Homo sapiens: one gene and its partner. The protein of the gene in region 2 interacts with the protein of the main gene of each other region in a biochemical or structural test. Each region holds a gene or a part of one and is shown on either strand. Other genes may lie near its edges.

Region 1 (16,746 bases), on a different chromosome or scaffold from region 2:
GCTGTATCAGTGCTTGGCACATAGTAAGTCATCAATAAGTATTTGCTAAATTAATGAACAAATGGAACTTTTTCAGATAGCTTACAATAAAAATATAATTCAATGACATTTACAAAATCTAAATAAGAACTAGAGAACTAGGACTGGGGAAAATCCAGACTAGGAACTGAAATACAGAATATGGTTTAACTTTATGAACTATTTACTCCCTAAGGAAAATAGACCAGATGACCTTTCCAAGAGTTGACTATCCAAACTTGACATCTGTGAGGATCTCTGAAGGGCCAAGAAACCTAGCTTCTAATATCGCCTTGATCCCTAACTAACTTGTATTTTCAATCAAGTCCTTTAACTTCTCTAGGCATCACTTTCCTCCTCTGTAAAATAAGAAGATTGGATTAGATGGTCTTTAGAATCCCTCCTAATCTCTAGTAGCCTTAGTACACAATAAGGAAAGAAATAAGCACATGAGCCAAGTTCTCCTCACATCCCCCCAGCACCTCCTCTCACCCCAACTCTCCCTTCCTTATGCATCGGCCTCACAATACTAGTCCACTCCTAATTTTAGATTTGAACCTTATGACCATTTCCCCATGCTCTGTTTACTGGGTTGTTTATTCTTTTACAGTACATTGATTTTTCAGTTTTGGCTTTTGAGGGAGCTTGCTCAATAGGAATCCAAAAGTGCTTTTGCTTATACCACTTCTGAGAATTAAAAACAGACATGATGTAAGTATCAATGTTGACTATTTCAGAAAAAAAAGAAACATCCAAATAGTGAAAAGTTAAAATTAAATTTGATCTTTTTATTTTTTATTTTTTTGAGATGGAATCTCACTGTGTCGCCTAGGCTGGAGTGCAGTGGCGTGATCTTGATTCACTGCAATGTCCACCTCCCGGGTCCAAGCAATTCTCCTGCCTCAGCCTCCCAAGTTGGCTGTGATTACAGGTGTGCATCACCATGCCCGGCTAATTTTTGTATTTTTAGTAGAGATGGGGTTTCGCCATGTTGGCCAGGCTTGTCTCAAACTCCTGACCTCAAGTGATCCACCTGCCTTGGCCTCCCAAAGTGCTGGGATTACAGGCATGAGCCATTGTGCCAGGCCTAAATTTGATCTTAAACCTGTAATACCTATAGGTTGCATAACAGTTTTAAGATTGAGTTATAAAAGAACAGTAATTCTCATTATGCAATAACCTTTGTATTTTTTCTAGTATTTTATCTCTTAAAAAGGATATATATTCCTCTTCAATTACTGTATTTTTCTCACAAATTTCATCAGTATAGATTGTCAGTCTGGATAATTGGGCTCTCAGATATCTATTTTCTCTACTTTACTTTATTATAGATTTCATGTCATTGTGAAGGCCCCTCAATTAAGAAAGTTATTCTGTAGGTAAAATGTATTTTACTTTTACAGAAATTACATGTATATCCTCAGAGAATATACATTTTTTCATATTTCACTATTGTGGATCAATGCAAATTACATTCTAATACTGAGATATTAATATTTTGTTCAGGGTATATCATGATCTATATAGCATTATATAGAAAACAATGTGCAACTTTCTGGCAGATGAAGATCAGTAAAGTTTTTTCATACCAATGCTAACATTGAGGTCATTTGGTGATTTAAACTTAAAACTACAATTAACTTCACTTTATGCAATTTTCTTAAAAATCTGTAATTTTGTGAACACTTAAATCATCAATTCTAATATTTGTTCTGGACTTCTGTTGCTCATAGCAACAAAATTTATCCTGCTATGGAATGGAGTAAGAAGTCTGTTGTGCATTAAAGAACTATTTAACTTCAGCTTCCAAATACAGGCTTTGGCAATTAAATATAGTTATTTTTTGAATTTTCCTATTTCCTAGCTTCAAAAGGAAAGGAAAGACCCTTAAGAAATGTTTTCAAACAACACAAAATCGGTAACCTGAAAACATGCATACCATTAATATGTGAAGGTGTTGGGGAAAAAACGGTATACAAATTAGTCTTTTTTCATACTCTAATTGGTAATCAACCTAACATAACTCTTAAAAACCAAAATGTTTTTTGTATCCACAGCACTCTTCTTTCTGGGAGGAAACTAGACTGCTTTAGAAATCACTGCAGGAATCACAGAGTAAAATGGAGAAGAACCCAGGGATGTGTCATAACACAGTAGTCTGAAAAAGGGCCAGGTAGAAGAGTGGGAAGGACTATGCCTCTGGCAAGTGCAAGTTCATAAATTCCAGTTTCTTCAAGTTACGAGGCACATCTGCATCCCCAGATGATGGCTACTGGTCAGAACACTGAACTCATACCAAAAGCTGCTGTTGTTGACAGTTTAATGTCTATGGATCTGACTCGGAGAGAAATGTGCCACTTACTGAATCACCAACACCATATCTTTGGTGTTGAGGTGGGGCACGCTTACTTTTTCATCTGAAGATTGACACAGCCCACCAAGAACATTTGAAAGAGACAGGATTGCTGCTGAAAAGGCATGACATCAAGCCACACAAATTGGATGGTAAGACTAGAGATTAACTTGTGAACAGGTCGTATGACGAGAGCTGAAACGTACAACTGGATCTTGGTCATGCCATTCCTCAAAGGAGACTAAGAAATCCTGAATTTTTAATTTATGCTTAATAGCCATGGCTTTGTCTCTACAGAGTGTTTGTGATACATTTCTAAGCATTGGTAAATTAATTCTTACTGCACCAACTTGGTGGAAATCTGTTCCATCAGAAAGAGTTAATACATCCAAAGAGATAGAAACACATTTAAGACTAACTTTCACAAGTTCCTGCTTAGCTAAGAATGAAACTAGAAAACTTTATTTTGAGTATTTTACATTTCTGATGGTACAGAATCAACAGTTTGGGAAGCTTAATACCTATTTGCCAAGAGAAAAAGTCAGAATTCTCTTTTCAGGTCTACATTCTTTTAACTTGTCTCATCTTTTTATGTACCCTAGTAGTTTCAGAGATACACTTGAAGATAGAGCAATTTCTGTTTTCATCACTTTTAACAACAATGGGTCTTTTTATCATTGTCAATGAATCAATATTCAGCCAGTGCTCCTGAGGAGATGAAAAATTCCACCGGCAATTATCTTACAGAGTCACCATGATTACTAGGTTATATGGTTTGGCTGTGCCCCCACCCAAATCTCATCTTGAATTCCCATGTGTTGCGGGAGGGACCCAGTGGGAGGTAACTGAATCATGGAGACAAGTCTTTCTTGTGCTGTTCTTATGATAGTGAATAAGTCTCATGAGATCTTATGGTTTTATAAAGAAGAGTCCCCCTGCACAAGCTCTCTCTCTCTTTGCCTGCTGCCATCTATTTAAGATGTGACTTGCTCTTCCTTGCCTTCCGCCGTGATTGTGAGGCTTCCCCAGCCATGTGGAACTGTAAGTCCAATTAAACCTCTTCTTTTGTAAATTGCCTAGTCTTGGGTATGTCTTTTATCAGCAGCATGAAAATGGACTAATACAGTAAATTGGTACTAGGAATGGGGTGCTGCTGAAAGATACCCAAAAACGTGGAAGTGACTTTGGAACTGGTTAACAGGCAAAGGTTGGAATAGGTTGGAGAGCTCAGAAGATGACAGGAAAATGTGGGAAAGTTTGGAACTCCTTAGAGATTTGTTGAATGCCTCTGACCAAAATGCTGATAATGATATGGACAATGAAATCCAGGCTGAGGAGGTCTCAAATGGAGATGAGGAACTTGTTGGGAACTGAGCAAAGGTGAGTCTTGTTATGTTTTAGCAAAGAGACTGGTGGCATTTTGCCCCTGCCCTAGAGATTTGTGGAACTTTGAACTTGAGAGATATGATTTAGGGTATCTGGCGGAAGAAATGTTTAAGCAGCAAAGCATTCAAAATGTGATTTGGGTGCTGTTAAAGGCATTCAGTTTTATAAGGGAAGGAGAGCATAAAAGTTTGGAAAATTTGCAGCCTGACCATGGAATAGAAAAGAAAATCCCATTTTCTGAGGAAAAATTCAAGTGGGCTGCAGAAATTTGTGTAAGTAATGGGGAGCCAGATGTTAATCACCAAGACAATGAGGAAAATGTCTCTGGGGAATGTCAGAGACCTTTGCAGCAGTCCTTCCCATCACAGGCCCAGAGGTTTACAAGGAAAAAATGGTTTCATGAGCTGGGCTCAGGGTCCCTCTGCTATGTACAGTCTAGGGACTTGGTGCCTTGCTTCCCAGCTGCTCCAGCTGTGACTAAAAGGGGCCAAGGTACAGCTCAGGCTGTTGCTTCAGAGGGTGCAAGCATCAAGCCTTGGCAGCTTCCACATGGTGTTGAGCCTGAGGGTGCACAGAAGTCAAGAATTGAGGTTTAGGAACCTCCGCTAGATTTCAGATGTATGGAAATGCCTGGATGCCCAGGCAGAAGTTTGCGCAGGGTTGGGGCCCTCATGGAGAACCTCTGCTAGGGCAGTGCAGAAGGGAAATGTGGGGTCAGAGCCCCCACACAGAGTCCCTATTGCAGCACCACCTAGTGGAGCTGTGAGAAGAGGGCCACCATCCTCCAGACCCCAGAATGGTAGATCTACTGAGAGCTTGCACCATGCACCTAGAAAAGCCACAGACACTCAATGCCAGCCTGTGAAGGCAGCTGAGAGGGAGGCTGTACCCTGCAAAGCCACAGGGGCAGAGCTGCTCAATATGATGGGAACCCAGCTCTTGCATCAGCATGACCTGGATGAGAGACATGGAGTCAGAGGAGATCATTTTGGAGCTTTAAGATTTGACTGCTGGGCCAGGTGCAGTGGCTCACGCCTGTAATCCCAGCACTTTGGGAGGCCAAGGGGGGAAGATCACGAGGTTGGGAGATCAAGACCACCCTGGCTAACATGGTGAAACCCTGCCTCTACTAAAAAAATGCAAAAAATTAGCCGGGCATGGTGGCGGGTGCCTATAGTCTCAGCTGCTCGGGAGGCTGAGGCAGGAGAATGGCGTGAACCCGGGAGGTGGAGCTTGCAGTGAGCCGAGATCATGCCACTGCACTCCAGCCTGGGCAACAGAGCGAGACTCCATCTCAAAAAAAAAAAAAAAAAAAGATTTGACTGCCTCACTGGATTTCAGACTTGCATAGGGCCTGTAGCCCCTTCATTTGGGCCAATTTCTCCCATCTGCGATGGCTGTATTAGCCCAATGCCTGTACCCACATTGTATCTGGGAAGTAACTAACTTGCTTTTGATTTTACAGGCTCATAGGCAGAAGGGACTTGCCTTGTCTCAGATGAGATGTTGGACTGTGGACTTTTGAGTTAATGCTGAAATGAGTTACGACTTTGGGAGACTGTTGGGAAGGCATGATTGGTTTTGAAATGTGAGGACATGAGATTTTGGAGGGGCCAGGGGTGGAATGATATGGTTTGGCTGTGTCCCCACCTAAATTTCATCTTGAATTTCCATGTGTTATGGGAAGGACCCAGTGGGAGGTAATTGAATCATGGGGACAAGTCTTTCCCATGCTGTTCTTGTGATAGTAAGTCTCACAAGATCTGATGGTTTTATAAAGAGGCCTTCCCCTGCACAAGCTCTCTCTGCCTACTGCCATCCATTTAAGATGTGACTTGCTCTTCCTTGCCTTCCGCCATGATTGTGAGGCTTCCCCAGCCATGTGGAACTGTAAGTCCAATTAAACCTCTTTCTTTTGTAAATTGCCCAGTCTCTGGTATGTCTTTATCGGCAGCATGAAAATGGACTAATGCACTAGGTTACTGCATCTTCTAATCTCAACAACACCACAGGGTAACAACTAATCTCAAGGCATTCACTGACCCAGATTATGGCAGACATATAAAAGGCTGGAGCTTTAAAACCATTTTATTAGTGCTGTCCATAGTTAGTTATAACAGGAGCAAATGTTGTGTGCAACTCCTTTTTTTTCCTCTACCACCCTCACTGTCTGACAGTAGCCAAACCAATTCTACTGCAGAAGCATAGTGATTTGTCACATCCTAAAGTGAAAGGGGCAGGAGGGTTGGAAACTCATCTTCCTCTCACTAATAAAATGTCAGTCATCCAAAATTACTTATTGGTTCACTTTCATGGGAGATATTTAAAATGCTACTTTGGTAGATTCCCAAACTATTACATCACCTCTTGAGCTGACAATAGATTGGCAGAATAAAAGGCAAGTACAGAGTAGAAGAAGTGAAAGTCCCAAGTAGTTAATGTTTTGAGCTGTATTCTTTACCTAGGAAACTGCATACATTCCCCCAATTTAACTACCACCTATATGCTGATCATACCCAAATCTATCTAACAATCAATGTAGACTGTTCCTCTAAGCTCCAGATTTATAATTTCAACTACTCACTGAACATCTTTACCTGAATTTCCCTTAGGCAACTCAAACTAAATAGGTCTAAATTCGAACTTACTACCTTTTCCCAAACCTTGCTCTTTTCTTCCTTCCCCTTTCTCGTCTACCTTCTCACCCAAACCAGCAACCTAAAAGCCATCTTTGACTTTTCTTTCATCTTCAGTCCTAAATCTAATCAATCACAAGTGCTAGCACTTTCCTCACTCCTCTCTGACCTACTGTTATTGCCAGGATCAGAACATGACTTGCTTGGACTATTACAGTGGCCTTCTAACTGATCTCTCTCCACCAGTCTTGGCCCCCTCAAGTCCATTCTCTACACTTCTGCCAGGATGATCTTTCTCAAATTTAAATCTAATTAGATCTCTTCTTAAAACTCTTCATGGCTCTCCACTGCTTATAGTCAGCATGGTGTATAAAGCCCTTCAACAGATTCAGCAGACAGTCTATCTACCTCCCCAGCCTTCTCTCCCTTCCCTTCCACCTAGTTACTCCATTGCACTATACATTCCAGCATTAGTTAATTACTTGTAATTCTAGAGATACATCAAGTAGATTTTTTATCCACACCTTTTCATGTCCTATGTCCTAGAGTTATCTATACCTTCATCTCAATTTCTTCTGCCCCATGACTGCCTGCTGAACTCCTTCCTTTACAACGTCTAAAATTCTACTTATAGGTCATCTCCCCCAATTCTAGAAAAATGTAATTACCTCATTTTCTATATTGCTTCCTATATCATAATACTTCTTATCCTTTCCTATATTACTATGCATGTATGCAAAATATAGAAGTAGCATATCAAAACCCTTATACATTATTATAAATACTTATTTACACTTCTGCCTCCCCTGGATTGTCACTCATTAAGGGCAGAGACAATTTGATATTCAATTTTATAAGCTCAATGCCTACCATAGCATCTGGCACACTTTCACTTAATAAGTATTGGCTATTCTTAAAGAGAATTCTAAAATTTATTCAACTACCTCCCCCCAAAATTGAGAGCCACTACACTCAAACTTGTGATTTATCCTGCAAAAATTACATAAACTGGTAATATCAATGTAAGTATATCTTTGTCATACAGTCAGTCTGAAATTGGGATAGTTTAGATACCCTTTTTCTCTGTAAGCCTTGTTTTGGTGCTTTTAGAAATCCAAAGGTCTTCATTCAGAAGAAATTTCAAAAACTATTTGTATAGCTCAAAATACCACAATTTCTTAGTACTGTTAGATCCTTTCTGTGGGGAGGTTATATAGAGATGTCATAACTGGCCAGTGGCATTGGTGTAAGAGCTGTGAAACACACACACGCACAAACATTTACATACATGTCCTATCTACTCCCTCACGGAGACAGGAATGAGATCTGTCTTTTATATTTATTTTCCTGCACCATTCTTTATACATCATATGTTCAACAGATATGCAGTCCCGTTTCTAATAATAATGGTGAAGTTGACAGGGAGCCTGTACTAGTGGAAAGAATACTAGCCAGGAACTAGGACCCCTGATAAGCTGTGATAACATGTAAAAAAGAAAAGTTCCTCTCTACAGCCAGGCACGGTGGCTCACGCCTATAATCCCAGCACTTTGGGAGGCCAAGGCAGGCGGATCACCTGAGGTCAGAAGTTCAGGACCAGCCCAGCCAACATGGCGAAACCCTGTCTCTACTAAAAAATACAAAAAAATTAACCAGGCATGGTGGTGCATTCCTGTAATCCCAGCTACTCGGGAGGCTGAGGCAGGAGAATTGCTTGAACCCAGAAGGCAGAGGGTACAGTGACCCGAGATTACGCCACTGCACTCCAGTCTGCGCAGTGGAGTGAGACTCCATCTCAAAAAAAAAAAGAAAAAAAAAAGTCCCTCTCCTGACATATATGTAAATGAGAAGTAATGTGAGGAAGAAGTAACAATTTTCAGGATCTATTACGTGTCAGATGCTGATTTGGGCACTTGATGTGTAGTATCTAATTAAATTCTGATAAAATCCCAATGAGATAGTATCATTGTTTCTATTTTACAGGTAAGAGAACTAACTCAGAATCATTTGCCCAAGAACACAGAGCTCATAAGTGGCAGAGTCGGCATCTGTACCAGGCAGAAAGCTTACATTCTCAACTAGTGTTCTACATTGCTAGTGTTTTGTACGTCACATTCTAAAGAAGAAACTTAAAAACTAATAATCAAAATTGTATACATTTATTCCCAATGATCTTCAAACAACTGCATAATAGAAGAAAATTTTTTTTAAATTATAGCTTAATAGTTTTGCAGAGTAAAAGCAGTGACTTAGAGGTCAGGAATGCCTCCAGCCCAATCCAGTCTCTACTTTATATGAGCTGTGTTTTCTTACTTTACTTACTCCCTCAGCACATCAGTTTTTGCATCTGTGAAATAAAGAAAATACTCCCTATTTTACAGGGTGACTATGACGATGATACACGTAAAATCCTTTATAAAGATTTGATAAACAACAATGCTGGTAAATTAACAGCAATAAAAGCTAACAAAAAACGTGTGAAAACAGAAAGTATGCTTACAGAAGCCAGTAATCTTCCATCTTCCTTCATAGCCAGGTAACGGTTAGCACACACTCCTTTGATAGACACAACTCCTCTCTCTTCTGCTTGAAGTTGTAGCTTGACTGTAACGGGAAAAAAAATTATCTTTGTAGCACCACAGAGGAAAGAGCCTTCTTCACAATATTTACGCAATATAAAGACAAAACACACCTAAGCAACAACTAATCCACTTTGGAGGATTGGTGAGGTTGGGGGTATGGGTGAGTGACAGGGAGCAGATGTCAACTAAACTGTATGAGAGAGGATGAGATGCAGAACTACTAGGGCACCAGTGCCTTGTGAGTTCCTTGTCGCTCCTGTGTCACAGGGTGAGCAGAGAAGGTGTCACAGGGTGAGCAGAGAAGGGGGACACACGGAGAATTGTTTCCTTTGTTGGGCAGTTAGCTTTCAATCGCCCCTGTTAACTATTTACATTTTTTAAAGTGAACATATTTTAAGGGTACATAAAAGTGTAGGAGAATTCCCATGCTACTGCCTATGTTGAAACTATTTAAAAGTTATTTGCCAATTCTTCACAAATGAAACAAAATCTAGTTATTCACTGTTATAATTTGAGCTGTATTTCCTTGACTTTTTGAGACGGAGTCTCTCTCTGTCACCCAGGCTGGAGTGCAGTGGCACAATCACGGCTCACTGCAACCTCTGCCTCCCAGGTTCACACCATTCTCCTGCCTCAGTCTCCCAAGTAGCTGGGACTACAGATGCCCACCACCACGCCCAGCTAATTTTTTGTATTTTTAGTAGAGACGCGGTTTCACCATGTTAGCCAGATGGTCTCGATCTCCTGACCTCGTGACCCACCTGCCTTGGCCTCCCAAAGTGCTGGGATTACAGGCATGAGCCACCGCGCCCGGCCCTATTTCTTTGACTTCTACACATCTTATTTCTAGCTTCCTCTTCAATGAACTATAGATGCATTTAGCTTTCTATATGGGATTTTGATGTCTATTTTTTTGTGTGCAAATATCTATCTAGTGGAAACACAAAATGCTTATACTTAATTTGCTTACACAGCAAATGATTTTCATAAAATAAGTGTGATGAAAGATTTTCATAAAATAAGATCCTGAGAAAGATGACTTGTCACACCACATTATCAATATTAAGCAGATTACAGAAAAACAAAAAAAAATTACTTAATTATGATGATAATGTAATATGGACAAATAATTACCTAATTAATTGAAATAAAAATGAAGTAAAGATTATTTTGCTATTCAGAGGCAGCATTCTCCTGCCTAGAACAATATTCCCCCAAATATATTTTTGCTAACAGATGTTAAATAAAAAATAGGTTCTGGTGTCAAATAATTTAGGAAAATCTTAGTTAAACCAAGTTAACTCTTTATTACCAAACTTCTCAGAACTCTGCTTATCATAAGATAAACAAGATAAATGTTTGTCCAGACTATTTTCATAGGTCATCCCACATCCTATGGATATGTTTAGGATATTCTTGAGAGCAACAGAAAAAAATGCAATTTTAGAAATCAGCATATTATCATTTGAATAACATTAGAAATATAAAATAAATATAATTTCCAGGTGTTTATAGGTAGCTAGGGAAACGGCATGAAAAAGCAACTTTTGAAAGTTTCTTAAATAATTAACTTTGTTAGATATCATTATGTCATAGTAATTTATGTTTTAAAATTTTTCCTACCAAGACAGCAACAGACATGCAAAATGAAACATAATATCTGGGATTAGCTTTAAAATAAGCTAATATATTATTTTAAATAATAGATAACTAAATTTTTAATAAAGTGGATAGGATAAATAAGATTCACTTGTGTTAACAGTCATTAGAAGCACAGGATTTCATTATTCTAATCTCACTACTTTTATGAATGTTTAAGAATTTACAATTTAAAAAAAAGACAATCTTAGAATTTTGTTGAACATTTCATGTCTGAGTCACCTCTGTGTGTCAGTCACCCCTGGATTCCAGAAAGCATTGCATCATTTAAGCCTACAGTTACCCAAGTGAAATTCTTCTACAAAATCTTAAAAGATAATACGAAGTAAAAGGAATGTAATGAAGACATGAAACCCAAACAATGAAGGGTATGAAGTATTTTTTACAATATTATTGGAAAATGCAGAAAATAAGCTTTGTTTTTAATCAACATAACCAAACTTATCTTAATGAGTATAAGCAAATTATTGCATACAGCTCTAAAATGATTCAGATAAGCCATTTTAATGAAGAATGCATTTGCATCTCACTTTAACTCATAAGGATGTACAAATGCCCATGAGGCAAGGCTGAATAATCAATCGCTATACTTTCTTTCTGTCCCTTATCAATCAACGCTAGCCCAGCTCTGGTCCACCATCTTATAAATGTGTATTACTAGTCATGAGGGTGATTAGGGATATTCGTGTATGGCCAGATCAGTACCAGTGACTCAATACCCAAAGTAAACATAATTCATTTACTCATTAACCTTTTGTAGACCTCAACTATTCCCACACTCAGGGATTGTTGTCATTCATTAAACCACTAAGCAATAAGCATTACATGTAAGATTCTTGAAGAGTGTTTCCATTGGCATATAATTTTTAAATTACAAGTTTTAAAAATAACCAGAGTCTACAACAAGAAGTTGAGGAAGTCACAAAATCATAGATTTTCTATAAAAACTATCTGAGCTGAGATGCATAAAAAACCTAAATAAACTAAATTCAATATACAGATGATCTCTTCCCAAAATAGAGATGCATAGCTGCTTCATCTCCTAAATAAATTCGATATACAGATGACCTCTTCCCAAAAAAGAGATGCATAGCTGCTTCATCTCTGATAGAAGGAGGAATAAACTTGCCAAAAATGGGACCACGAAGAAACCAGCTGAATTTTTAAGAAACTTTTATTAGCTGCTGATGTGAGGAATTAGAATTCTGAAGAGCCCTGATCAAAGAGCAACTCCATATCCACCTGCCAGTTCTTTCCCATAGAGCTTCCACCCAGTGCACAAGTACCACACACCAAAGGCTAGGAACAGAACAGAAGGGCTAAGAGATCCTCTTCAAGTACACTGGGCCTTTGCAGAATGCAAGGCAGCAGTCCACTGAAGGCTGGGAGCAGGTCAAAGGGCTGAAAGTGATCCTTCTGAGAAGCACTGAGCCTTCACCAAATGCAAAGCCAATGACCAGCAGGATAAAGAGAGATCTTCCAAGATGTGGAAAGCCAGGAGTACAGTTCAAGAGCAAGGTTAGCTCCCCACCAACCCAAACATTTGGCAGCTGAGTTATAAGGGCAAAATGAAATATTTTAAAACTACTCAATTAACCCAAGAAGGCAGAAAGGGAAAGACAGAAGGTAAAGGACAGATAGGATAATTAGAAAAATAGCAAAATGTGTGAATTTGATTCTGTCGTCATGCTGCTATTTGGTTATTTTGCACACTAGCTGATGCAGTTTCTTCATAGTGTCATTGGTCTTTATATTTTGGTGTGTTTTTTGCAGTGACTGGTACCGGTTTTTCCTTTCCATATTGAGTGCTCCTTTCAGGAGCTCCGGTAAGGCAGGCCTGGTGGTGACAAAATCCCTCAGCATCTGCTTGTCTGGAAAGGATTTTATTTCTCCTTCGCTTTTGAAGGTTAGTGTGGCTGGATATGAAATTCTGGGTTGAAAATTTTTTTCTGTAACAATGTTGAATATTGGCCCCCAATCTCTTCTGGCTTATAGAGTTTCTGCTGAGAGGTCTGCTGTTAGTCCGATGGGCTTCCCTTTGTAGGTGACCTGGCCTTTCTCTCTGGCTGCCCTTAACAGTTTTTCCTTCATTTCAACCTTGGAGAATCTGACGATTATGTGTCTTGGGGTTGATCTTCTTGTGGAGTATCTTGGTGGTGTTCTCTGTATTTCCTGAATTTGCATGTTGGCCTGTCTTGCTAAGTTGGGGAAGTTCTCCTGGATAATATCCTGAAGTGTGTTTTCCAGCTTGTTTCTGTTCTCCCTGTCTTCTTCTGGTACTCCAATCGATAGTAGGTTCGGTCTTTTTATGAAGTCCCATATTTCTTGGAGGCTTTCTTCATTCCTTCACATTCTTTCTTCTCTAGTCTTGTCTGCATGCCTTATTTCAGCAAGGTGGTCTTCAAATTCTGATATCCTTTCTTCTACTTGGTTGATTTGGGTGTTGATACTTGTGTATGCTTCACGAAGTTCTCATGCTGTGTTTTTCAGCTCCATCAGGTCATTTATGTTCCTCTCTAAACTGGTTATTCTAGTTAGCAATTCCTCTAACCTTTCATAAAGGTTCTTAGCGTCTTTGCATTGGTTTAGAACATGCTCCTTTTAGCTCAGCGTAGTTTTTTATTACCCATCTTCTGAAGCCTGCTTCCGTCAATTCGTCCATCTGATCCTCCATACAGTTCTGCACCCTTGATGGAGAGACATTGCGATCATTTGGAGGAGAAGAGGCACTTTGGCCTTTTGGGTTTTCATCATTTTTTCGTTGATTTCTTTCTCATCTTTGTGAGTTTGTCTATTTTCAGTCTTTGAGGCTGCTGACCCTTGAATGGGGTTTTTGTGGGGGATTTTTTGTTGTTGTTGATGCTGTTGTTGTTGCTTTCTGCTAGTTTTTTTTTTTTTTTTTGTCTTTCAATGGTCAGGTCCCTCTTCTGAGGGCTTCTGCAGTTTGCTGGGGGTTCACTTTAGGCCCTATTCTATCTGATTTGCTCCTGCACCTGGAGATGTTACTCAAGGAGGCTAGAGAACAGCAAAGATGGGTGCCTGCTTCTTCTGTGTCCTCTGACCTCGAGGAGCACCAACCTGATGCCAGTAGGATCGCTCCTGCATAGGGTGTCTGACAACCCCCTGTTAGAGGGTCTCACCCAATTGGGTGGCACGGGTAATAGGACCAGTTTGATGAAGCACTTTCTCTCTTGGTGGAGGGGGTGTGCCTCTTAGAGACCTACAAAGAGACTTAGACTCCTATGAAATAATAGTGGGAGACTTTAACACCCCACTGTCAGTATTAGATCAATGAGACAGAAAATTAACAAGGATATTCAGGACTTGAACTCAGCTCTGGATCAAGTGGATCTAGTAGACATCTATAGAACTCTCTACCCCAAATCAATAGAATATACATTCTTCTCAGTACCACATGGCATTTATTCTAAAACCGACCACGTATTTGGAAGTAAAACACTCCTCAGCAAATGCAAAAGAACTGAAATCATAACAGTCTCTCAAAACACAGTGCAATCAAATTAGAACTCAGGATTAAGAAACTCACTCAAAACCACACAATTACATGGAAATTGAACAACCTGCTCCTGAATGACTCCTGGGTAAATAATGAAATTACGGCAGAAATGAAGAAGTTATTTGAAAACAACGAGAACAAAGAGACAATGTACCAGAATCTTTGAGACACAGCTAAAGCAGTATTAAGAGGGAAATTTTTAGCACTAAATGCCCACATCAGAAAGCTTGAAAGATCTCAAATCAACACCCTAACATCATAATTAAAAGAGCTAAAGAGGGAAGAACAAACTAATCCAAAAGCTAGCAGAAAACAAGAAATAACTAAGATCATAGAAGAACTGAAGGAGATAGAGACACGAAAAACCCTACAAAAAAATCAATGAATCTAGGAGCTGTTTTTTTGAAAAGATTAACAAATTAGACCACTAGGTAGACTAATAAAGAAGAAAAGAGGGAAGAATCAAGTAGACACAATACAAAATGATAAAGGGGAGATCACCACTGACCCCACAGAAATAGAAACTATCATCAGAGAATACAATAAACACTTCTACTCAAATAAACTAGAAAATCTGGAAGAAACTGATAAATTCCTGGACACATACACCGTCCCAAGGCTAAACCAGGAAGAAGAATCCCTAAATAGACCAATAACAAGCTCTGAAATTGAGGCAGTAATTAATAGCCTGCCAACCAAAAAAAGCCCAGGACCAGACAGATTCACAGCTGAATTCTACCAGAAATACAAAGAAGAGCTGATATCATTCCTTCTGAAACTATTCCAAACAATTGAAAAGGAGGGACTCCTCCCTAATTTATTTTATGAGGCCAGCATCATCCTGATACCAAACCAAGAAGAGACAGAACAAAGAAAACTTCAGGCCAACATCCCTGATGAACACTGATGTGAAAATCCTCAATAAAATGCCGGCAAACAGAATTCAGCAACACATGAAAAAACTTATCCGCTGCGATCAAGTCGACTTCATCCCTGGGATGCAAGGCTGTTTCAACATACACAAATCAATAAATGTAATCCATCACATAAACAGAACCAAAGACAAAAACCACGTGATTATCTCAATAGATGCAGAAAAGGCCTTTGATAAAATTCAACACCCTTTTATGCTAAAAACTCTCAATAAACTAGGTGTTGATGGAACATATCTCAAAATAATAAGAGCTATTTGTGACAAACCCACAGCCAATATATTGAATGGGCAAAAGCTGGAAGCATTCCCTTTGAAAACTGGCACAAGGCAAGGATGCCTCTCTCACCACTCCTACTCAACATAGTATTGGAAATTCTGGCCAGGGAAATCAGGCAAGAGAAAGAAACAAAGGGTATTGAAATAGGAAGAGAGGAAGTCAAATTGTCTCTGTTTGCAGATGACATGATTGTATATTTAGAAAACCCCATCATCTCTGCCCAAAAACTCCTTAAACTGACAAGCAACTTCAGCAAAGTCTCGGGATACAAAATCAATGTGGAAAAATCACAAGCATTCCTTTACACCAACAATAGACAAGCAGAGAGCCAAATCATGAATGAACTCCCGTTCACAATCGTTACAAAGAGAATAAAATACCTAGGAATACAGCTAACAAGGGATGTGAAGGACCTCTTCAAGGAGAACTACAAACCACTGCTCAAGGAAATAAGAGAGAATGCAAACAAATGGAAAAATATTCCATCCTCAAGGATAGGAAGAATCACTATCGTGAAAATGGACATACTGCCCAAAGTAATTTATAGATTCAATGCTATTCCCATCAAACTACCATTGACATTCTTTACAGAATTAGAAAAAACTATTTTAAATTTCATATGGAATGAAAGAAGACCCCGTATAGCCAAGACAATCCTAAGCAAAAAGAACAAAGCTAGAGACATCACACTACCTGACTTCAAACTATACTACAAGGCTGCAGTAACCAAAACAACATGGTACTGGTACCAAAACAGATATATAGACCAATGGAGCAGAGCAGAGACCTCAACAAAAGCAATTGCAACAAAAGCCAAAACTGACAAATGGGATCTAATTAAACTAAAGAGTTTCTGCACAGCAAAATAAACTATCAGCAGAGTGAATAGGCAATCTACAGAATAGGAGAAAATTTCTGCAATCTACCCATCTAACAAAGGTCTAATATCCAGAATTTATAAGGAACTTAAACAAATTTACAAGAAAAAAACAACCTCATCAAAAAGTGGGCAAAGGATATGAACAGACACTTCTCAAAAGACAACATTTACATGGCCAACAAACATAAGGAAAAAAGCTCAACATCACTGATCATCAGAGAAATGCAAATCAAAACCACAATGAGATACCATCTCACACCAGTCAGAATGGTGGTTATTAAAAAGTCAGGAAACAACAGATACTGGCAAGGCTGTGGAGAAATAGAAACACTTTAACACCGTTGGTGGGAATGTAAATTAGTTCAACCATTGTTGAAGACAGTGCGGCAATTCAAGGATCTAGAACCAGAAATACCATTTGACCCAGCAATCTCATTACTGGGTATATACCCAAAGGAATATACATCATTCTACTATAAAGACACATGCACATGTGTGTTTATT
Region 2 (16,746 bases):
GGTGTGCTTGAAGGAAAACAGAGAGACCAACATGGCTAGAGTGGGATGGGACCTGGATAAAGATAAAGCCTGAGAAGAGAAGACCTCGTGGGCTGGCACAGGAGAAGGCAGATGTGCTCATAAGCCTTGATTTTCACTCTAGCTGGCATGGGGAACCATTGGAGCATTCTGAGCAAAGGAGTGATACGATCTAAGTTTAAGAGAATACCATCACACTGGTTGCTATGCTGAGAACACAGGCTGGGGAGAGCCAGAGCCAGAGAGCTAGAGCAGGGGAACTGATATGGGCGACTGCAATAATCCAGGCAAGAGGTAATGAGGGGTGAGACCAGGATAGTAGTCACTGAGATGGTAAGATGACAAATTTTACATATATCTTGAAAGCAGAGCCCAAAGGTAGAGATTATGAAACATTAGCTAAGCTGAAACATATCCCATCCAGTCACCTAAATCTTTATTCAGATTACAAGAAAATTGATGCAGTCCCTTATTGTGGAAGGTTGTTATTTCATCATTTGCTCTCCAACCTAAAGAATACACGAACATCTTCTAAGACTGCCTCACTGCTTAATAATCCATTGACCTCATACCAGAAGAGCCTCCCAGAATGTGTCCAGGCCCATCAGATCTGAGAGGGCAGAAAGAAAAGTTAGTTCCAAACTGTGGGTAAACAACAAGGCAGAACATTAACCAACCAGCCAGCTGGGGGCATTTAATTCAAATTCAGTTTAAAGTGAACTCATTTCACTACTCCCCTTTAAAAAAAATCTCCCCATAAACACAAAGAACTAATCCTTACCATAGCCTCCAACATCCTGGTGACAGGTGATGTTTAAGGACCATTTCTAAAGTACATTGGTAAAAAGTTGTCTTATTTTGCTTTTTAAAATCTTAGCACAGGGAAATCTTCTATAATTAAGGCAATTTAAACAATAGTAGATAATAATTTGACTATAAATTGTAAGGAATGTAATGACTGCTTACTCTGGCACCAAAAAACAGGACTTTCTGTGAAGTCACTGCCAAGAAAAATGATACTCCCACTCAGACTGGACCACTGCAAGTAGTAACTGCTAACCACATGCTTTACACTGCAGTTTGCAAGGACACAGTGCTTTGTTTTCATCTCTGACCAAACACCAGACCGAAAACTCAATGGAGACAAATGTGTGGTGAAATAGAAACAATAACTGAAGGAAAAAAAAATATTCTGGTGGCTTAATGCTTGCTGGGATGATGACGTCAAGGGTTTGGTGAACTAAGGAAATGTCTACAGTCCAAAAGAAACCACTTCCAGCCTGCTCTGGTAGGCAGAAGGTGAACAGAAGAAAGAAGACAGGCTTTAAGAGGCCTGCAAAAGCCAAACTAACAAAGTGGCTTTGCAAAGAAAGGACTAGCATGAAAAGAATGGTTGCGATGATGCAGAGATCAAGTCCTGACCCAAACCTCCAGGAGAAGAAGACGGAAGTGAGCACCTAGTAGAAAGGCTGATGCAACAAAAAGGGGCAAAGGTAGCCTCTTCTAAAAGCACCTCTGAGGCCAGGTGTGGGGGCTCATGCCTGTAATCCCAGCACTTTGGGAGGCCGAGGCAGGCAGATCACCTGAGGTCAGGGGTTCGAGACCAGCCTGGCTAACACGGTGAAACCCGTCTCTACTAAAAATACCAAAATTAGCCGAGCATGGTGGCGGGTGCCTGTAGTCCCAGCTGCACAGGAGGCTGGGGCAGGAGAATCACTTGAACCCAGGAGGCAGAGGTTGCAGTGAGCTGAGATTATGCCATTGCACTCCAGCCTGGGCAACAAGAGTGAAACTACGTCTCAAAAGGAAAAAAAAAAAAAAAAAAGAAAGAAAGAAAAAGCACCTCTGCAGGCACAGCCAAGTTCCTGCTAATGTCTGGAACAGACAGCGTAAGAAGTAGCAACCATTTGTCTACCGGGATTAAAACAAACCACATGAAATACTAAGCGCCCACCTCCAAGCAAGCCAAGAAAGAGCACCACGCTCTAGGTTAAGGGGTAAAAAAACATGTTTTCCTTTTCCTTTCCTTACTTAGGCATCTAGGACTGAATGTATGCAAAAGTTAAAAATAAATGAGATAGCTTAAAATAATTAGATTTAAAAAGGGTTATCTTAGCCTGTTTGGGCTGCTAAAACAAAATACCAAAGATTGGGTGGCTTCTAAACAACAGAAATTTATTGCTTGCAGTTCTGGAGGCCAGGAAGTCCAAGATCAAGATGCTGGTAGATTGGGTTCTGGTAAGGGCATGCTTCCTCATAGAGGGCCATCTTCTCACCGTAATTTCATGTGGCGCAAGTGTTAACGGTTTTCTCTGGGGCCTCTTTTATAAGGGCACTAATCACATTCATGAGGGTTTACCTCCCAGAGACTCCACCTCCTAATACCATCACCTTGAGGGTTAGGATTTCAACATATGAATTTTAGAAGAATAGAGTAAGAGCACAGCAGATATGAATAAAAATATCTCGTCCTGGAATGAGTACAGAAACAAAAAGTCATGCTTAACGTTCCTGAGCACCTACCACATGCCATGCAGTATGTTAGGAACTGGGGATACATGGTTTCTCAGATCTGGCATGATAGGGCACATAGAGCTGCCTTTTTTTTTTTTTGACAGAGTCTCACTCTGTCGCCCAAGCTGGGGTGTAGTGGTGTGATCTTGGCTTGCTGCAATCTCTGCCTCCCAAGTTCAAACAATCCTTGTGCCTCAGCCTCCCGAGTAGCTGGGATTACAGGTGCATACCACCACACCCCAGCTAATTTTTGTGTTTTTAGTCGAGAAGGGGTTTCACCATGTTGGCCAGGCTGGTCTTGAACTCCTGGCCTCAAGTGATCTGCCTGCCTCGACCTCCCAAAGTGATGGGATTACAGGCGAGAGCCACCATGCCCAGCCAAGCTTTGCTTTTTTTTAAGGTTCAAATAGCTACATAGTCAGACACTATCCTTAACTTCTAGTGTTTCTTATGATTATACATTTACCTAGTTTGGTAAATGTTTACAAGGGAAACCAGTATTCAAATGTGTCACCCTTAACGAGGAACCAACTGTTGTTGACTTCAGGTCAAAACTCAGTTCCCTAAACTGACCACAGCAGGTAGTACAGTATCAGAAACTAAGTTGAACCTAGATGTTCTAGAGGGCTTTCAAAAGAAGGTGCAGAGGGGCCAGGTGTGGTGGCTCACGCCTGTAACCCCAGCACTTTGGGAGGCCAAGGTGGGCGGATCATGAGGTCAGGAGTTCAAGACCAGCATGACCAACATGGAGAAACCCCGTCTCTACTAAAAAATACAAAAATTAGCTAGGCGTGGTGGGGCACACCTGTAATCTCAGCTGCTCAGGAAGCTAAGGCAGAAGAATCGCTTGAACCCGGGAGGCGGAGGTTGCAGTGAGTGGAGAATGCGCCATTGCACTCCAGCCTGGGCAATAGAGCAAGACTCTGCCTCAAAAAAAAAAAAAAAAAAAGAAGGTGCAGAGGGGCCGGGCGTGGTGGCTCACGCCTGTCCCAGCACTTTGGGAGGCCAAGGCAGAATCACTTAAGGCCAGGAGTTCGAGACCAGCCTGGCCAACATGGTGAAAGCCCATCTCTACTAAAAATATACAAATTAGCTGGACGTGGTGGTGCATGCCTATAATCACAGCTACTTGGAAGGCTGAGGGATAATCTCTTGAACCTGGGTGGCAGAGGTTGCAGTGAGCAGAGATCATGCCACTGCATTCCAGCCTGGACAAAAGAGTGAGACCCTGTCTCAAAAAAAAAAAAAAAAAGGTGCAGAGGAACAAAATCATAAACCACAAGCTCTGAGGTGAAAAAGCCACTGAATTAATAATATACAATTTTTAACACATTTTTTAAAATAAAAAGACAAAGTGACACGTAGATTGACTCCTTGTTGATCCAGCACTGTTGGGAAACTGGGTGCTCTAGATAGGTAAATGTGTAAGTTAACTAAATTTCCCCCTTAAGGGTAGTTTTCATATTTTGAATATTTCCAATAGAACTCTTTTTTTTTTTTTTTTTTTTTGAGACAGAGTTTCACTCTTGTTGCCCAAGCTAGAGTGCAATGGCTCAATCTCGGCTCACTGCAACCTCCACCTCCCGGGTTCAACTAATTCTCCTGCCTCAGCCTCCCGAGTAGCTGGGATTACAAGCATGTGCCACCACGCCTGGCTAATTTTGGCATTTTTAGTAGAGACGGGGTTTCTCCATGTTGGTCAGGCTGGTCTCCCAACCTCAGGTGATCCGCCCACCTTGGCCTCCCAAAGTGCTGGGATTACAGGCGTGAGCCACCGTGCCCAGTAATGGAACTCTTTCTAAAATGTACTTTCTGAACTTTTAAATCAGAATAAGCCAAACACCATTATTTAATACTGTAATGAAATATACTAGTGCCCTCGATGATTATGGTTACAAAGGTGGCTTTGAGCATTCGCCCATTCTAGGAGATCTCAAACTGCCAAGATCAGCAAGTTCTGGCTCTCCCATTCAGCTTCTGGTCACCCTCCAACTGTCCTCTCTCACTTCTTCCAGATGTCAAGTCTTACCTGCCTCTAACACGATCCCTTCCTGTGATTCCCATCGGCCCCCAACCAATACCATTTGCTACTTCTAATCTGCCATAGACTGGGAAACTGGATAACCAAAGCATTTTATCTTCTCACGTATAAACCCTATCTACCTAATTTGAATGCAAGTTCCTCAAAAGCTTGATTCCTGCTTGACACCTCTTGGAATCCCCTGCACCCAGCATACTGCTCTGGATACAGGAGCCATTCAATGATTGCTGATAATAAATTTCTGAAGGCCTTTTCTCCACATAGAATGCATGGGCTTTATGACAGCTGTTTCCATCATTTGGCTTTTCTGCTTACTTCCACATTCCCAGCTGTGTTCTGGATGGTTGCACCAGCTAGAAGCCTAGGGATTTACTGTACTTCTATTTCTTGATAAGATACTTGAAGAGAATAAACACATGGCAAAGAGGACATTAAAGTAAGGGATAAAGAGATTTATTTTAATTTTACCAATAAAGAAAAAGGGAAGAAATATCACCTAGCATGTTGACACTTAATCAATAAATGACAGCAAGGCTGGATTCTGTTCTAATTCTTTCCAAAGTATTCTCATTGTGCTTGTCTTATGTCTCTACCTGCAGCAAAGCAGCACTCAGTTGTGGTTCACACTTATATCTTGATTGAAAACATTTTCCTCCATGTTTGACACACCTTTCTCTTAAATCCAAGTTAGCCAAAATTAAAACAACCATGCACTGATTCTAAACTAAAGGCTTTATCTCAAACAACATTTTGTGATGAATCTCATTGGAAAATTTAGAATAATAGAATCTCAGAGATGGAAGGGACCTAGGCCAGGCATGCTGGCTCACGCCTGTAATCCCAGCACTTTGGGAGGCCGAGGCGGGCGGATCACGAGGTCAGGAGTTCGAGACCAGCCTGGCCAACATGGTGAAACCCTGTCTCTACTAAAAATATAAAAAATTAGCCAGGAGTGGTGGTGTGCTCCTGTAATTCCAGCTACTCAGGAGGCTGAAGCAGGAGAATCACTTGAACCCAGGAGGCGGAGGTTGCAGTGAGTGGAGATCATGCCATTGCACCCAGCCTTGGCAACAGAGCAAGACTTCGTCTCAAAAAAAAAAAAAAAAAAAAAAGAAAATTAAAAAAAACTACCATGGGCCAGGCACAGTGGCTCACGCCTGTAATACCAATACTTTGGGAGGCCAAGGTGGGTGGATCACTTGAGGCCAGGAGTTCAAGACCAGCCTGGCCAACATGGTGAATCCCCATCTCTACTAAACATACAAAAAACCAGCCGGGTGTGGCAGCACACACCTGTAGTCCCAGCTACTCGGGAAGCTGAGGCAGAAGGATCGCTTGAACCCAGGAAGTGGAGGCTGTAGTAAGTTGAGATCACGCCATTGCACGCCAGCCTGGGTGACAAGAGCAAGACTCCATCTCAAAAAAAAAAAATACACACACACACACACACATTCATCCATCCATCCATCCATCCATCATGGCCTAGTCCTTCCTGAAAAAAGTATTATTTCATTGGTATGGGGTGGTACCCAGGCATTAGTATATTTTAAAAGCTCCTCAGGTGCCAGGTGGTTCAATTTCACCCCATTTTTCAAAGAGGGAAGAACCTCACCAAAGGTATTTGACAACAAATTTGCCAGAGTTAGGCTAGAACTACTCATCCTAACAAGCCATGTCTTCTCCATGTAAACTACTCCATCTACAACAGTGGAGTCTCTTCCCTCCCTCACTCTCCCTCTCTGTCCAACTATCCCCACCTATCTCAAAGTAAATATATTTTCTGAATATTCTTTGCCTTAGAATCCCATTGCATAATTTTTAAAAACCTAAATGATGTATGTCTGCTTCCCTGTATCCTCATGCTTTTTTTTCCACACAAAGAATCCCGAGAGATCAATCAGGCATGGTTTACCCTTAAAGAAGCCATATTGCTTCTCCCTAGATAGGTTGGACTCAACCCACCCTTTTCACCATTATTATCACACATGCCATCTTTCAAATCCCTTGCAAGATTCAACTTCAATTCTCTGTCAGCCCACTTAATTTCTAGTTTGTACCTGGGCCTTGTGAAACCTAGTGGACTTCCCTCTTCTGGCTTAAACTCTTTGTATTTTGTGAAAGATGCCTTTTTCCCTGAAGCAGCCTCTTTTACTCTGCCAGTTAGTCATGCCGGGTTCTTTTTTTCTTCCCCCGAGCAGTTGGTCTTTTTGATGTCTGGCACACATTTATCTGGGCTTCCAATAAGATGTTTTTACATAGTTTCCAGGCTTCCTGGAGGTTATTGACTTTTTTAACTCTCCCATTCAGTTTTTTCCCCTAATTTCTAACATTTGTTAGAGTTTCTTTCTCAAAAGTTGAATACCTGGCTGATGCAGCTCTTTGATTTTTCTCTCCCACCAGATTGCTGAATTAAATGCATCAGAACTTAAACATAATATTTCAAATTACCTCCAGGATGGAATCGCTTCATGCATTTTCTGCACTTTCATGTTCTCTATAGTAAGCAACAGATGTTTAACCAAGTAGATTTGAAAATGCTAGTTTTTACCTGTTTGTATTTTAGTATGTCTGTTTATTTATATAAAATATTCTGATACCCTTCAAAGCTTGTGTTCTTCTTGGTAAAGACAATAAACTTGAGTTTTTTTATGTTAAAAGGTAACTGATGCACACTGAACAGTTGCATGTGGTAAATTTGCTCTAAATTGCCTAATCACAACAGTCTCAACTGTTCATTCTTTAAAGAAGTGTATCTCAAGGCATTAAGAAAAACAATTCTGAATCTTTCTGAAAAATTCCTGGCCAGTGCAGTAGCTCATGCCTGTAATCCCAGCACTTTGGGAGGCCGAGGTGGATCACCTGAGGTCAGGAGTTCAAGACCAGCCTGACTAACATGGAAAAACTCCATCTCTACTAAAAATACAAAATTAGCCGGGCATGGTGGTGCATGCCTGTAATCCCAGCTACTCTGGAGGCTGAGGCAGGAGAATGGCTTGAACCAGAGGCGGAGGTTGCGGAGAGCTGAGATCGTGCCATTGCACTCCAGCCTGGGCAACAAGAGCGAAACTCTGTTTCAAAAAATAAAAAAAAATCCTATAAGCATTCAGTTATTAATGAAGTGGTAAAGACAAGTACTCCCCCAAAAGAATAAAAACGTTCTCCAAGCTATACCAACATATGCATATTTACTTTAAATTTATTTCACTTCAAAGTGTTTAGATACAGGCCTGGAATGGTGGTTCATGCCTGTAATTCCAGCACTTTGGGAGGCTGGATCATTTGAGGTCAGGAGTTCTAGACCAGCCTGGCCAACATGGTGAAACCACGTCTCTACTAAAAATACAAAAATTAGCCGGGTATGGTGGCACACGCCTATAATCCCAGCTACTCGGGAGGCTGAGGCAAGAGAATCCTTTGAACCCAGGAGGTGGAGATTGCAGTGAGCCGAGATCACGCGACTGCAATCCAGCCTGGGCAACAGAGCGAAACTTCATCTTGGAAAAAAAAAAAAAAAATTAGCCAGGCGGTAGTGGCTCATGCCTATAATCCCAGCTACTCTGGAGGCTGAGGCAGGAGAATTGCTTGAGCCTGGGAGGCAGAGGTTGCGATGAGGCAAGATCACGCCACTGCACTCCAGTCTGGGCAACAGTGAGACCCTGCCTTAAAAAAAAAAAAAAAAAAAAAAAAAAAAAAAAAAAGTGTTTAGATCCAAAAGATTCCTAGGAGATCAACAGACCATGGAATGACAATCTATCATCAAGGCAGTATAATCTCATTGTAGCACTAGTGTCTGACAGAGAACACAATAGAATTGGCTATGTTATTCTCCCACTTGTTTAACAAATATTGCACTGACCTACCACACTTGGTACTGCTACCCACAGACAAGACGAGGAGTTGTCATCTTTGCCCTCAAGTTGCTTCCAGTTGAGAAGACAAACACGTACCTGCACACACAGTTAACTATAATACAAGGCAGTTATGTACAAAGACCATGGACTGGTTCCAACAGGGAATTAGGAAGAAGTGGGCACATAACCCTGGAGAGTTCAGAAGTGACTCAATGAAAGAAGTATCATTTGAGATGCTTGGAGCCACTGAAGCTCAAAGCACAGGAATAACTCTAATCAAAGCAGTGATGTAAGGAAATTAAGCTGGCGATGTTCAGGATAGAACAGGGATTTAGGAGGGGGGGACAGACAAGAGGCAGGTAGACCAGTTAAGAACTATTTAAAAAGAGTCTGCTGACAGACCTCCCTGTCTTTATCTCTTGCCTCGCCAACCCTTAACCCAAAGAGCCACTAGTTATCTTCCTAAAACAGCTTGACTGACGACATTCCCCTCCCTCAGAAACCCTCATTGGCTCAATTGTATTGTCCAGGAAATACAATTTATATTCCTTCTACCATTAACACTAGATTGTCTATGTCTGGGTTTGACATTTTGTCTACAAAAGATGTGACTGGATCCTCTCCACTATAACACGAAAATTGTGCCGTTTTGATGATGGTCTGTTACTAGTTAGCTGAGGGTCCTCCCATACTTTATATCTCAACAACCTCTATGGGAATAGAGAAGGTACTTTCTTGTCTTACTATCTGTACAACATAGCATGAACTATACTCTAGAACAGATAAGACCTGGGTTCAAATCCCACCTCTGTTATTCATTAGCTATAAGATTGTGAACATATTTCATAATCCCTTTGAATTTGTTTTCTTGTCTATAAAATGGAGATGATAATTCTGATGTCATATGGTTGTTGTGGGTTTTAAATGAGACAATCATGTAAGTTCCTTGGTATAGGGCCAGGCCCAGAGAAAGCATTCAATAGCTACGAACTCTTATCATGAGGCCAAAATACATTTTTAAAAACATAAATAAGAAAAAAACCTCAGTGCTAAAACAGTTAATGTCATTGGGGAGCCAGAGAGACTCACTTCCAACTGCCTCAGATTAACGCCAATGTTGTTTCCCTTGTACACATAACAAAAAACTTCCTTTTTCATTCCTCAGTCTAGTCTCCAGTTAATCCTGAAATTGCATGCAACCCAACGTGAATCAAATAAAAAAGGAAAACAGTAATTATGCTGAATCAGACATTTTATATTTATATGTTCTAACCAGAGACTGAGCTGCATAAGCCAGAACTTTAACTAAATTCTTTTTTGAACATGTCCAGAAGATACCTCCTGTAAACTACTTGGGACAATTTCTACAGTGATAGGCCCTGTGGCTCAATTCGACCCTCCCCAAGTGAAACACAGAGCCAAATTGATGATTCCAACAAAACAGGAGATCACAGATTCATTGCAAAATCCAACACATTACTTACGGTGGGGAAGGCGGAATACAAATCTTAAAGACACATGCTGTGTGTCATATATAATCAACTCACTATTAGAAAGTATTGCTACCTCTCCAACACACATACACACGTACTTTTTTTCCACGTAGTCATAACAGCTTATAGGAGTCCTGGAATCCTTTGTGCATGTACATATGTATGTGTGTGTGAGCACATGATCATAGGTGCATTGCTCATGAACACAGAAGGGAACAAGAAATAAAAACTCCAAAACTGCAACTAGGGCACAAAGTTCTGAGTATCATTCAATGTCATTGTGAAGAGGACCTTTGGCAAGTTCATGAATGCTTCTAACCCACTGCCTCACTCTTAAAAACAATTTCAACATAGATGAGTAATAAAATGCCCATTGTTGCATACCCTTTACCTTTGTCTTTATGGAGGGAGGCATAATGAAAATGGTTAGATTTTTAAACTTATCTTCATTAGTATTTTCATTTTTACTAGTGAACTAGCTTTACCCAGTTAATATTCTATAGTATTAGAGTCCTAAATCCCTTCTCTCTTTGAAATGCCTGGGCACTCCCTTCTCGTCATCTGTATCGCTTGTATGGCACTTATCACCACTGTGTTGTATTCTAATTTTGTGTGTGCGTGGCTTATCTCCTTACTAATAGGAAAGGTCCTGGTGGCAGAAGCCCCTCCTGCCTTTCTTGCTGTCTCCACAATGCTGAGCAGAGGATACTGCACATAGTGGGCGCTCCAAAAGTACATGGCCATTGAAAGCTGAACAAAAACATAATCTTTGTGTTAAAGATCCCTTTTGATCATGGCACCTGGACTCAGCATTATTTGAAAAGTACAGGGGTCAAGCAGACAGGCAATGCAGGACCTCAGTTGGAAGCCCTGTCAGCATGATGTACTCCCTGACACCCTTGAGAGCACATCAGATGATCCTAACTATGATCTATAAAGACTGAGACTCCTCCAGAACATGGAGTATTCTTAAAGCCTGTTCAAACCTCTAGAAGGCAAGTGCAAGGCCATCTGGAATAAAACATTAAACTTGGGCTGAGCCTGGGGCTCAATGAGCTAGGTACCCAGACTTTGTGATACTTCACCTGGAAAATGATCCTGGGTGTTTTGCACTGAAAAAAGCACATTCCCCATCCCAGGCAAAGTGCCTGGCAATTAATCCATCCAGACCTAGGCTGAATACAAGTCACTATATTGACTATCCCCCTTAAAAAATGACCAAAATTATCTGAGTGTAGCTCAGAGAAGACAAGGCTAATGTATGCATCTGGAGAGGCCAGGGTGATGGTAAAGATTACGCCTGTTTCTATACTGGCCGTCTAAAGGTATTTACTTGGGTCTGTCTGTGTTGTGACAGTGTCCTAGACTCAAATGAATGCCTCTAACACTCCACATTTTTGAGCCATTCAGTCATGCATTTTTGTTATTGTTGAAAGTGGTGCGAAATTGCACTGCATGAGCTAAAGTCCTTGGTGGTCTTCCAAGGATTCCAGCTAAAAAGGCACTTCCTTTGTTCCTCAGGAGAATGCAGTCCAGTAGGTCATTCAAAAGGGGAAATAAAAGCAGCAGCCCAGGGAGGGAGATGAAGGACAAGACAAAAAGAATAAAATGTTTTGGGTGTGAGCACATTAGCTTCCATTTCCTGCTGCTGGTCACTAATAACTCCCCTATCTTTGGCATGGGGGAATGTCCAGATAGACATATACGCAAAATATCCCTCAGGTGATTTCTGGGGATGATGACAATCAAAGGGAACACCTAGCACAGAGTCTCTGAGCACCCTTCAAGCTTCCTTTTTCCTGAGATGCTGGCTGGGGAAGATGCCCTGCCACAGCGAAAGACTGCACAGAGCAAAGTTGGGGAAACTGGGGAGGGCAGTTTCACAACCCCACTCGCTGAATGCCTGCAGTCAATATCAAAGGCACATATTGTTTGCATGAGCAGAAGATGAAACCTTGTCACATTCCCATTAAGTGCAGAGCTGCATCTACCCCTTCAAAATGTGGGAATGACAACTGTAACCTTCACGCCAATCATCTCCGCTGTGCCCAGGCCTAAACTGTGCAGGGCACAAAGACCCCAGGTTTGACCTGCAGAGTCCCCAAGCTTCAGCGGCTGGTGGTTCACTTCATTTTTTTTCTGGCGGGGCAGGAGGAAGGGAAAGAAAGAGGGCTTTTCAGGGCTCTACAACCAATAAAATCGTGCCGCTTTGAGGACATACTTGAGCTCCCCAAAAGACAGGCAGCTGAAGGGCAAACAGTGTCTAATCAGTAGTGAGCATGTTATTTGGTAACTGCCAAGGTGCAGTGGGCGCCTGGGCTGCTCCAACAATTTCTTCGCTTCTATTTCTAGACAGACGCCAGTTACACTCCAAAAGTGCCCAGCAACTTCCCTCAATTACCTTTGTAATTAATATGTAATTGATGACTGCACTTAATCTCCAAGGTTATTAATAGCCCTTCCAAAAAATGACCCCCAAATCTTCCTAAGCCTTTGGAAGCGCCTGGTTGAAATTACAGTATTTCCTTTGCTGGCTGCCGGCCCCCTGCCCGCCCCACCCGGAGACCAGCACGGCAAGGCAAAGGCGCGCTCCACTCACTTCCATGAAAGGTTCGGAGTGGAGGCTCAGCCCCCCCCCCGGGCTCGAATCTCTCACTCCTCCGTTAGATTACGCTGGCCACCAGCCAGCTAGATTCGTGGTGCTTTCTGAGCCCCCAGGGCGAACGGGCTACCTGCGCGGCCGGCGGGGCTGCGCGCAACAGTTGGCCGCTGCTAAGAAGACAGTGCGACCCGGAGGGGACCCGGCCGGACACCGCCGCCAGCTTCGCTGGGAGGGACGCAGGGCACCCGCCGAACGCTGCCTCCCCAGCGCTCCGAGAGGGGCTTTCACAAATACCCCCATACACCCCCCATCCCACCCCACCGGCGCCAAAATCCGGTGAACTTTCTCACAGGCTAAGCCGTCTCTATTTGCATAACCATCTCCAAACTGAGATTCAGGTTTCCTGTAATCAGTCCTTTCAAAGGTCTGTAATTGAAAGTGCAATTAACCCTTAAAATGAGGTAAGAAAAAAGAAAGAGGGGAAAAATACTCCTCTGGTCTGATACCTTCCGGAAAGTAGGAGAGTTCCCAAAAGTCAGGGTTTGGAGGGGTGGAGAGTGGGGGTAGTCGTTTGCTTTTTAAAGGCGACTTCTGAAGCGGTTGCGGCTACTAAAACTCCTAATCCTTGTCAGCGGTGCAAGAGAGGCGGGGAGAGAGTTTTAAAAGAACATCAATGAAACATCAATTCAAGTTCCACGTTTTGCGACCCCCAGAATCTAGCAAGCTCCGGGACGTTTCCCTCCACCACACCCCACTGGCGACCCCCACCCCCACCCGGCCTCTCCTCACCCATACAACAAAGCGGGGCGTCCTATAAGGAGTTCAACCCGGAAAAGGAGAAGTAGCCGGTGACACGCACTTTGAGGGCCACAGTCCTCAGGGGCTTCCCGGGACGGCGAATAATGCAGGGGGGAGAGGAGGAGCGGAGGCGGGGAGCGGAGCGCGACAGTCGCACTGGGCAACCCGGCGGCGCCCCTCCGCTCGCAGTGCTGGGAAGGGGGGAGCGCTGCGCCCGCGGGGAACGTCCTGCGCCCGGGCTGCCTGGCTCTCTCGCTCGCTCGCTCCTGCCCTCTCGACTGCCCATTTCTCCCTCTAGTGTACCTGCGTCCGGCGCAGGGGGCGGCGGGGCGGGGGAAGGGAGTTGCAGCCTCCCTTCCCGAAGTGTCGGTCTCTGCGCCCACCTCCCGGGTGTGCCCACCTACCGTTGATCTCGTGGAGGGGGGCATCGTTCTTGTTGAAGCCTTTGGACACGTAAAGACGTCGCACTTCCGAGCAACTTTTCGACTTGAGCTCGGCAGCCAGCAGCGCGGCGCTGAGCACTGCCAGGGTGCAGAGAAGCGCGGGCAAGCCGAACCGTGCCATGGTGCGGGCCGGGGCGGACGCGTTCCCACCTTTGGGACCGGACGGGAAGCGGCGCTACGGCAGCGGGCCGAGGGCTGGCGGAGTCGGGGACTAGCGAGTGGAGCTGGAGGGAGAAGGAGTTGGAGTTGGTGGAAGAGGCGAGCAGGCGGAGGAGACGCGGGGCGAAAAGTAGAGCTGGGCCTCGCGTCAGGCAACGGTCCCCGGTGCCAGGCGCCGGGCCAGGGGAGAAGGAGGGCGTGGAGGCGGCGCGCGGCCCAGGGAAGCAGAGGCGCGGGCTGGTGACCTCGGGGTTTCGCGGGGCAGCGAACCCGGCAAGCTGACTGGCCGGCGAGGCGGGGACGCGGGGAAGGAGGGAAGGGTGGCAGGCGCCGCGGGGACCGCAGAGGGTGTGGGCGGCGGCGGGCGTTCGCTGCGCGCTGCTTGGGCTGCCCTGCGCTGGTCCGCTCGTCCGGCTGGACTCGGCTCGGCTGACTCTGCCCTCCGCCGCGCGGCTGTGCCCTTCTCAGCTCTGCCGCTGATTGACTGGCCGGCGTGCGCGGCGACGCTCCGCAAACTTGGCCAAGCGGGCGGCACTCGGGGGGAGGGGGCGGGCGTCGTGGGGGGGCCGGAGACAGGCGGGAGCACGCTGGGCCGGGCCGGGAGAAAACCTGGAAGCCGGGTTGGATCCGGAGCGGCCAAATCCACTTCCTAGGGGGCCGCACCGGGCGCCCGGCGCTCCTTCGCGTGACACGCCCCACCCGGCTCCTCCTTCCTCCCCTCCTCCTCGGAGGCGGGGAGCCAGCCCACCGCCCCCCAACCACAAAGGGAAGGCCAACTACTCCGGGCTGAAGGGCCCAGGTTCTGGGGAACGGGACGGCCTGGGACTTGTCCCGAAGCCCATGTCTGAGCCCCAGGCCTTCTTGCGCGCGGCCACCTGACCCGCCGCCTATGGGCAAAAGCCGCGCGGAGCCCTCCCGCCGCGATATCCGCCTCCCCGCTGCCATCCCGCACCCGCGGACGCTCCTATCCGCGCAGCTCCCGGGCTGGGCGGGGAAGGCACATTACTCGCATTGTTTCGCTGCAGGCAGCAGGGGGATTTGGGGCTCCGAGCTCGTCCTAGAGCCTCACCTGGTCTCCCCAGACCTGCTTCCCATAGGACGGTACTCGTGAAACACCAGTTTGTCCAGGACCCCATCAGGCATCCTCCTTCCCGCATCCGCAACACTCCAACCCCTCGACGCCACTCCCACCCCCGACCCGGTTCTACTACAAGTCTAACCGAACTCTGAAGCGGGAGAAACCCCCAACCGCGAGGTGAGGGGGCAAAGACAGGGTTGACCGCAGAGATCTTGGAGACCATTTGGCCCAACCCTTCCTTCTATTAAGGGAACTGGGGCCCAGAAATGGGAAGCGACTTGGTAAATAGCACGCCGGGGAAGGGGGCGTCCAGAACCCGGGACTCTTGACTCTCGAATTTCATGGAATAATGGTAGCCCAGGACTCCCAAACCCCCTACCCCCTCAAGCCCCTTGAGAGAGACTGACACCCCTCTGGGACTCAGTCCCCACTTTTCCACCAGAAAACTGGAAATGGGAGAGACTTCCCATCTTGCAAGCTTTGTCAGATTCCATTAATGAGTGTTTTTTTGAAGCTCCCAGCGCTCCTTAAATGAAGGGAACTGTGCAGCTCGGGAACTTGTCATTACCGTTGTTATTGTTACAATCTGCTTTAAGAGGTTGGGTTGAGAAGTGCCTCAGACACCTCGGGAGTGTGCTGGGAACTGGGCAGATAAAAAGGGCTGGAACTTATTATTTGGCTAGACTCTCAATTCCCATAAAATTACATAGGGCAAAGATACGAACCATCATTACAGTTATCACCCTCAGAGGGTTTGTTGAGACTTTCTCCACTGTTGTTTGTAAACCACGTTGACATGGCTGGCTATGAGGAGCTGTTATTTTGAATACCTGCTTGCAGACTCTTCTACATTTTGTTAACAGACTATCAACATGAACAGACTGTGACCCGTCTATAACTGTGACTTCCAATTTCTGTGGGCTGGCTGAATATTTAACTCTGAAACTAGGAGAGCAATTTTTTTAATGTGCAAACTCAACTACAATTGAATTTCCTGCCATTTTCAAGACTTTCCTTAAACTGGTAACCATCAAGTCCTGAAGGCATTGCTAGGGCTTAGCTGAGCACTTTTAATTTTCATTGATTGATACATTTACTTAAAGATGTTCTTCACCAAGGAGAATATGCTCTGAGATGCAACGAGCATTATTATAAAATGGAAGCCAGTGACCGTAAGAGAGAAAATGATACTCCTGAACCATGAAGGCCAAATCAGAAAGCTACTTCTCACACCAAGGCTGGGAGGAACTCATTCGTTGCCGCCGCTCCCCCCCGCCGCCCCCGCCCTCCCCAGGTTTACTCCTGCTCTTCCTCATAATGTATTATTAACCCAAACTTGAGCCTTTTCCACCAGAAACAGTAACCTCTGGCTACAAACAGATCTGGACAAGTCTGAACTTTACCAAGGGAGGCAGGAACCCCAAGCCGTGCTCAGAGGCGGCTCCCACTTCAAAGCCTCCTTTCATTTAAATACAAACAGGGTGAACAACTGGCAATCTACGAAACAAATACCATCCAGAAGGGAAGCTTTCTTTTCAGATGGGCCAGAACTCCTTCTTCCCTCTCCCACTCCCATCCCTGCTGTCTTCAGAAGAGGCTTCTTAGTGGAGATGCACCTACTCCTTGTAAGTTCTCTCAACGCCAAAAAATAGAGACTGCATGTTGACTGCAAAAATCGATGACTTCTCAGGCTGATTAACCGTCATATAACTTTTTTTTTTTTTTGCTTTTTAGAATTGTGGTAAAAAG

Evidence for each region.
Region 1: the proteins of GPC4 (region 2) and FGF2 form a complex in vitro, tested with the Homo sapiens proteins (one study listed by BioGRID).

What each region holds. Positions count from the first base shown.
Region 1 is NC_000004.12:122,868,572-122,885,317, reverse strand, and holds part of FGF2 (fibroblast growth factor 2 isoform 18 kDa), read right to left. Parts: intron 8,998-16,746; coding exon 8,894-8,997; intron 3,444-8,893; exon of another isoform or gene 2,076-3,443; intron 950-2,075; exon of another isoform or gene 38-949; intron 1-37. UniProt on the Homo sapiens protein: Acts as a ligand for FGFR1, FGFR2, FGFR3 and FGFR4. Also acts as an integrin ligand which is required for FGF2 signaling. Binds to integrin ITGAV:ITGB3.
Region 2 is NC_000023.11:133,401,085-133,417,830, forward strand, and holds the start of GPC4 (glypican-4 precursor), read right to left. Parts: upstream 14,406-16,746; 5' UTR 13,882-14,405; coding exon 13,722-13,881; intron 1-13,721. UniProt on the Homo sapiens protein: Cell surface proteoglycan that bears heparan sulfate. May be involved in the development of kidney tubules and of the central nervous system.